2 linked regions of the Homo sapiens genome follow. The protein of the gene in region 1 interacts with the protein of each later gene in a pairwise test. Each region holds a gene or a part of one and is shown in the gene's direction. Other genes may lie near its edges.

Region 1 (3,500 bases):
TGTGTGTTTAGGATGAGTGTAGGGTGTGCTATAGATGATTCCTCTTAACCCGCTGCTGACCAATGATATGGGTCTCTCTGGATCTGCAGGTGCCTGGTAGTGGATGAGGCTGACCGGATGGTTGAGAAAGGCCATTTTGCTGAGCTCTCACAGCTGCTAGAGATGCTCAATGACTCCCAATACAACCCAAAGAGACAAACGCTTGTTTTTTCTGCCACACTCACCCTGGTGCATCAGGCTCCTGCTCGAATCCTTCATAAGAAGCACACCAAGAAAATGGATAAAACAGCCAAACTTGACCTCCTTATGCAGAAAATTGGCATGAGGGGCAAGCCCAAGGTCATTGACCTCACAAGGAATGAGGCCACGGTGGAGACGCTAACAGAGACCAAGATCCATTGTGAGACTGATGAGAAAGACTTCTACTTGTACTACTTCCTGATGCAGTATCCAGGCCGCAGCTTAGTGTTTGCCAACAGTATCTCCTGCATCAAACGCCTCTCTGGGCTCCTCAAAGTCCTTGATATCATGCCCTTGACCCTGCATGCCTGTATGCACCAGAAGCAGAGGCTCAGAAACCTGGAGCAGTTTGCCCGTCTGGAAGAGTAAGTTAGGACTGTCCCCAGAGGCTTAACCTCTAGTTAGTTACTGGGGTAAAAGGGGTCAGGATGGTGGGGAAATGGTAGAAAAGCCACCTTCTGTCATAGGGGCCTTGTCTCAGTAGTAGGTAGCCTTTTTTTTTTTTTGCACAGCATTTGGCAAGGTTACTGTCATTTAGTGAATTTGGTTGCAGTTAAATGCCATACAGAAACTTCAATACTAATGAATATAGGTGACAATACATAATATTGAATGTATAGACAATAGATTAGGTCCTGTGCTGGCACTTTAGATTCAGAATCACATTCAGTTACTCTCCTAACATCCTTAAGAGGAAGCAGAATAGATTCATGGTTAAGAGCACAGATCCTGGAACCAGAATGCCTGAAATCAAATCCTAGTTCTGTCACTCCTTAGGTGGTCAAGTTATTTAATTTCTCTGTACTTTAATTTTCTCATTATTTGGATAATAATAGAACCCATTCTAGGGTTGTTATGAAGATTGATTGTAAATTCATGCGTGTAAAGTGTTTAGAACAGTCTCTAGCACATAGTATGTATATATTGCTAAATGTTAGCTTTAATAATTTCTAGTCCCTTTACTACTTATTACCATTATCACTATTCTCATTTATAGATGGAAAAATGAGGTCTAGAAAAGCTGATCAGTGTGCCCAAGGTTTCTCTGCCTGGAAGTGGTAGAGCTGGGCCTCAGACAAGCCTGTCGGACCTCAGAGCCCATGCTATTTCTTATTCCTGATGTCTTTGTCCATCTGCCTTTGGACCAGACTGATGCTCAGGGAATGGGGTGCAGATTGTCAAGATGAGGGCCTGGAAAGTTGAGGCAGACTACAAAGTGTCTTTTGCCAGTGTTTTGTCAGGTCATGGGGTAATTAGTTTCTAGAACAAGTGTTTGATTTACTGGTTTTTAAAAATTGGTAAGTAGTATCAGTGGTTTACTGAGATTAGCTTAGAACAAGGCTTGGCAAACTATAGGCCTCGTGCCAAATCTTGCTTGCTGCCCTTTTTTTTTCTAAGATGGGGTCTTGCTATGTTGCCCAGGTTAGACTTGAACTCACGGGCTCAAGCAATCCCACCTTAGCCTCCTAAGTAGCTAGGACTACCAGTGCATGCCATCACACCTGGCTGCTGCCTGTTTTTTTAGTAGACGTTTTACTGGAACACAGCAAGACCCATTTATGTATTGTCAATATCCTCTTTTGCGGCAGAGTTGAATAGTTGCCATAGAGACTGTGTGGTTCACAAAGCTGGAAATGCTCTCTGGCTCTTTACAGAAAAAGTTTGCTGACCTTGATCCAGAGCAGTAGTTTAATGTTTTACAAACTAGGATTTGCATTGCATTTCCCGGCCTCAGCTCAGACATGCAGGGAGTGAGGACCCTGAAGGGCCAGAGTCTTATGTTTTGAAGCACCTCAAGTACTTTTGACTTTCCATGAACCACACATTGAGAAACATCATCCAACACATTTATCAAGTGCTTACCATGAACCAGATGTTGTTCTCTGTGGTGGTAATAACAGCAGTGAGTAATGCAAAGTCCTTGCTCTCATGAAGCTTACATTCTAGTAGAGGGAGATAATAAATTGCAAAGTAAGCCCACAGTCTGCCAAGTGATCCTAAGAAGTAAGTCGAGCAGGGGTTGGAGAAAAGAGATTGGGTATGTGTGGTCAGTCTCTGATGAAGTGAGAATTGAGCAGAGAGCTGAAGAAAGTAATGAAGTGAGTCATATGGACATCTGAGGCAAGACCCTTTAAGGCCTTAAGGAGTAGCAAGTGCAAAGGCTTGGAGGTGAGAGCATGCTTGGTTTGTTTGGGGAAGAGCAAGGAAGTCTGTGTGCCACTGGGAGGAAGTAAATGAGAGGGTGCTAGGAGAGGAGTCACTGACCCAGAATATGTATGGCCTCATTTAACTCACTGAAGGGAGTCTTTATCATTGCAGAGTATGGCATGTTGGTTGGGGTCAATGAGTCCCAAATTTGGATCCAGACTCCACAGCTGAATAGCCATGTAGATAGCTTGGGAAGTTAATCTCTCCGAGCCTCAGTTTTTCTGTAAAAGGGTATACAAGTGATATCTTACAGAGTATTGGTAAGGACTGTAATGTTTAGGATGCTCAGCAGTTGGTAAGAATTTGATTAAAGATAGCTGTTAGTTATTATTAATAAGCTTTCTCTCTCTACCCCAGCTGTGTTCTCTTGGCAACAGATGTGGCAGCTCGGGGTCTGGATATTCCTAAAGTCCAGCATGTCATCCATTACCAGGTAGGGGCATCTGAAAATTTATAGGCATCTGCCTGCACTGAATGGGGAATTTTTAAGGCAAAGGTTGGGGGAGGGAGGAGGAATTGTTGGTTCCAAGGCTCTTGCATCAGAGAATACCACTGGCATCGAGTGCCCACTACTCCCACTTTTGCAACACTGCTGAGATTTGGTCTCCAGAAAACCTTGCTTTGTCTCATGTCAAGTAGCCCTTCTCTCCAAGCTACTTGATATTGTCAGGTTAGAGTCTTAGTTTTTTCTGTGAAATGGGCATAAGTTAAGCATGTAATTGGTTACCCTGATGTAGAGAAGTATTAATAGAAGAGTGTGGTAGTTTAGATCTCTCTGGGCTCAAATCCCAGCTGTGTAACCTTGAACAAGTCATGTAATCTCTCTGTATCTCAGTTTTCTCATGTATTAAATGGCAGTGAGTACCTGCTTCTTAGGGTTCTTACTGAGGTAAAATAAGTTACTAAGTATAAAGAGCTTAAGAAGCCACCTGGCACATTGCAAGCACTTACTCATGTTAACTGCCATTGATAGTAGCAGTAATATTAGTGTGTGCATCTAGTGAATATCAGCATAAAATTTTGGTTAGGAGTATGGGCACCGGAGCCAGACT
Region 2 (4,011 bases), on another chromosome or scaffold:
GAAAGAAACTCCTCACAGCCTCAGCATCCAAGTCAGGCCATGGGTGACAGCTGGAAAGTGATCAGGAGGCTGCAGTTTCTAGAAGAGGGTGGGGACACTGCGGAGAGAAGATGGGGCCAGATTCCGAGAAGACAGCATAAGCCCCTGTTCCTGTAAGAGCAGGGACGGAAGCAGGGACATAAACGCAAGGGATGAGCCCCAAAGTGTGACCCATGAGACATGATGTCACATGTGGTCTGGAGCCTGCGGCCACTTCTTCCCATCATATACACAGTTATGAGAACAAGTTGTGAGAACCACCTCCTCCCTTACCCAGCTGCCCCCACCCCAGAAGCCGTGTGATTTTGCCCCCCAGTGCCCTGTGAGTCACTCCACCCATGGAAACCTCACCCCACCCTGACCTCAAGCAAGGCAGAGTGCAGAAGACATGTCCTCCGGTGCTACCAGACCACTCTCACCAGCACCCACGACCTCAGCAGGGCTGGAGCCAGCGTGGAGGCCACTGGCTGTCCTCACAAAGCGAGGAGCAGGAGCCCCTGTTCGAGGAACATGCTTGGAGTTCGGAGCCTGGGCTAGGGTGGGATGTAGGTTGAGCAGGAAGTGGATGGCAAGATTAGAGCAACATCTCTCTTCTCCCACTCAGGGAGGAGGGAATGGCCACAGGCTCTGACACTCAAGAAGGGCCAGGCACAGTTCCAAGCACTTCACAACAACCCCTAGGGTCTACATGACCTACAATCCCAATTGTTCAGTGAAGAAACTGAGGCACAGTGAGGCTGAAGAACCCTACCAGTCCACACTGCTGGTGCATAACCGAGCTGCCCAAGCCCCGGCGGTCTGGCGTGTAGGCCCATGCTCTGAGCCGCCGCCTCTGCTTGCCTCTTACATCCCACACATGCGATGCTGTGCATCAGAAGCAAGGAGATGGCCCTGCTGGCCTGTTCATCAACACCAGGGCCGAGTCTCAAAGTCCTCAGCGCCCCGCCCTCCTCCGCCTGTGTGCCCTGAGTCCCCGAGCCCCAGCAGCTCTACTCGGCAGATGAGCCTCTGGCCCTGCTGCTCGCTTCCTGAGGGCTGTCAGTGGGGAGCCGGATGAGGGCTGAGGACAGGGTGGGTGCTTGTGGGAGGGGAGAGCACAAAGGACCTGTGACCACAGCTGGGGGCGGGGCAGGAAGTAGAAGTGATGTGAGTGGTGGCTGGTGCAAGGAGCCACAGTGGGCTGCCTGGGGGGCTGATGCCACCATTCCAGGAGCCTCGGTGAAGAGAGGATATCCATCTGTGTAGCCGCTTCTCTATACGGGATTCCAGGTAAGGAGAGAGCAGGGATTGGGGGGCCTGGGGCCCTGGGTGGAGGGGAAGAGGCTGATGGAGCAGGAAGTGCTGTGACCTATAAGACAAGACACCTGGGTCACAGACGGTGCCCATCACTAACTCGCTGGGCAGCCCTGTGTCCACCCTGGGCCTCAGTTTCCTCATGTATGAAATGAAGAGGTAGCGTGCAGTTTCTAAGGCCCTGCAAGTGCTGACATTAAAGCTTCTAAGAAAGCTGGAAAGAGGCTCCCTGGGACAGAATACCATGAGAGTCAGGATGAGGGCTGAGTTCACTGGATTAGGGTTATGACTGTGCCCGCCTCCTAGCTGGGATGAGCCCAGGGCCTTTGAAGATTCCCCTGGCCTCTTTGCCTCCCTGGGGCGAGCCACGCTGCCTGAAATTCCACCCTTCAAGTCACACCTTTGGGCAGGGCAGGAGGCTCCAGCTATAATGGGGGCTCTCCATAGCCCTCTTGTCTCAGAACCTGTGGTACCCAAGGGCAAAGGCCTTTGAAGAGCTCAGCTTGGATAAGGTTAGGCTTGGGTAAGGTTAGAGAAAGGAGGTTCCAGATCATAAACAGGCCCAGGCAAGGCCCCAGAAACACCTTAAAATTAGGAAGAACCTTCCAGACAATCATTGTCCATAGTAGGCAATAGGGGGGCCCCTGTCACTGCCGAAGGCCACAGAGCTTGGCAGGGAGTGGCAAAGAGGGGAGGGGCAGCAAGAAAGGATCTGAAGAGCAACCATCGAGGCCTCTCCCCACACAAAATCCAAGGGTGTGGTCAGGTCTGCCCCTTTTTTTTTTTTTTTTTGAGGCAGAGTCTTACTCTATCACCCAGGCGGGAGTGCAGTGGTACGATCTTGGCTCACTGCAACCTCCGCCTCCTGGGTTCAAGCGATTCTCCTGTCTCAGCCTCCCAAGTAGCTGGGATTACAGGCACCCGCCACCATGCCCAGCTAATTTTTGTATTTTTAGTAAAGAGGGGGTTTCACCACGTTGGCCAGGCTGGTCTCGAACTTCTGACCTCCAGTGATCCACCTGCCTCTGCCTCCCACAGTGTTCGGTTTACAGGTGTGAGCCACCACACCTGGCCAGGTCGGCAGATTTTATTCTAGAATTCGGGCTGATGTTATTCCATAAAGCTCAGAGGGAGAGCCCCAAAGGGAAAATGAGAAGAATAGGTGCAATATAGGACCTCATTTCTCTTCCAATTCTGTTAAGGGCTCAGTGGGAGGGAGAGAGGTTAGAGAGAGTGACAGAGACAAAGAAACAGAGTGAGAGTCAGGGTGGGCAAAGGGTGGCTTGTTCTGGGGCCAAAAATGACACTTCTTCAGAATGAAGGCTTCCTCAGGTCCCCAGACCCCTCCCTAAACCTGCTACAGCTACTCTGTCCCCTCTTCTGTGGCCACAGCCCCCTCCCCACCACCCACAGTTGTGTCCTGGGGACAGAGCCATCCACCTAGATCCCCATTAGGCCTTAGGGAAATTCTAAAAAGGGGCTCCCCTTGGCTGGGCTTTTCCCCTCTCTGGGCCCATCTGTACAATGTGGGGGCTGAACCAGGCCTATAAGGGACATACCAGCTCTGACATTCATTGAATAATGACTTAAGAGATATCTCAGCCCCTCCCCTTCCATGTGCCCTGATAATCTGTGGCTGTGGGGGAAGGGAGCAGTCATCCTCCATCCCTCCACCCATGGCTTCCCAGAGCCCAAGTGCCCCCTGTCTCTGCAGCTCCATGGCAGCCCGTCTGCTCCTCCTGGGCATCCTTCTCCTGCTGCTGCCCCTGCCCGTCCCTGCCCCGTGCCACACAGCCGCACGCTCAGAGTGCAAGCGCAGCCACAAGTTCGTGCCTGGTGCATGGCTGGCCGGGGAGGGTGTGGACGTGACCAGCCTCCGCCGCTCGGGCTCCTTCCCAGTGGACACACAAAGGTTCCTGCGGCCCGACGGCACCTGCACCCTCTGTGAAAATGCCCTACAGGAGGGCACCCTCCAGCGCCTGCCTCTGGCGCTCACCAACTGGCGGGCCCAGGGCTCTGGCTGCCAGCGCCATGTAACCAGGGCCAAAGTCAGCTCCACTGAAGCTGTGGCCCGGGATGCGGCTCGTAGCATCCGCAACGACTGGAAGGTCGGGCTGGACGTGACTCCTAAGCCCACCAGCAATGTGCATGTGTCTGTGGCCGGCTCACACTCACAGGCAGCCAACTTTGCAGCCCAGAAGACCCACCAGGACCAGTACAGCTTCAGCACTGACACGGTGGAGTGCCGCTTCTACAGGTGAGAGCTGGGGCTAGGGGTGGGGGGCTGGAAAAGGCGCGGGAAACTCTGGGTGGTCTAGGAGCCCTGGAAAGGCAGAGTCCTCCAATCAAACTTGGAGGCTGCTTCCACCAGGAAGAAACTGCAATCCTGGCTCTCAGACTTCAGGTGATTCAGCCCTGTGGCCTCCTCTCATCCAGGAGGTCCCAAATCTGGGAGTGCCCAGTGAGACATCAAGTAGAGAGAAAGTGAGTGAGACCATGCCTGAGAGTCCCAGCAGGGTGCCATTTAGGTCTAGTGAGTACTGAACCCTGCCTTTCCTGGGCACAGCCAGCCTTCCACAGAGTCCTTCCTGGATAGGGACAGAGGCAGGAGACCTGGCCGGGTCATCCTTCCTCATCGCTGTGTGACCTTGAGCATCTCACTTCTCTCTGAGCTTCAAT

What was found. Proteins that work in one complex are often made in the same cells at the same time.
Region 2: the proteins of DDX24 (region 1) and PRF1 interact in a two-hybrid assay, tested with the Homo sapiens proteins (one large-scale study listed by IntAct).

What each region holds. Positions count from the first base shown.
Region 1 is NC_000014.9:94,057,203-94,060,702, reverse strand, and holds part of DDX24 (ATP-dependent RNA helicase DDX24), read left to right. Parts: intron 1-89; coding exon 90-605; intron 606-2,805; coding exon 2,806-2,881; intron 2,882-3,500. UniProt on the Homo sapiens protein: ATP-dependent RNA helicase that plays a role in various aspects of RNA metabolism including pre-mRNA splicing and is thereby involved in different biological processes such as cell cycle regulation or innate immunity.
Region 2 is NC_000010.11:70,599,942-70,603,952, reverse strand, and holds the start of PRF1 (perforin-1 precursor), read left to right. Parts: upstream 1-1,211; 5' UTR 1,212-1,308; intron 1,309-3,020; 5' UTR 3,021-3,050; coding exon 3,051-3,589; intron 3,590-4,011.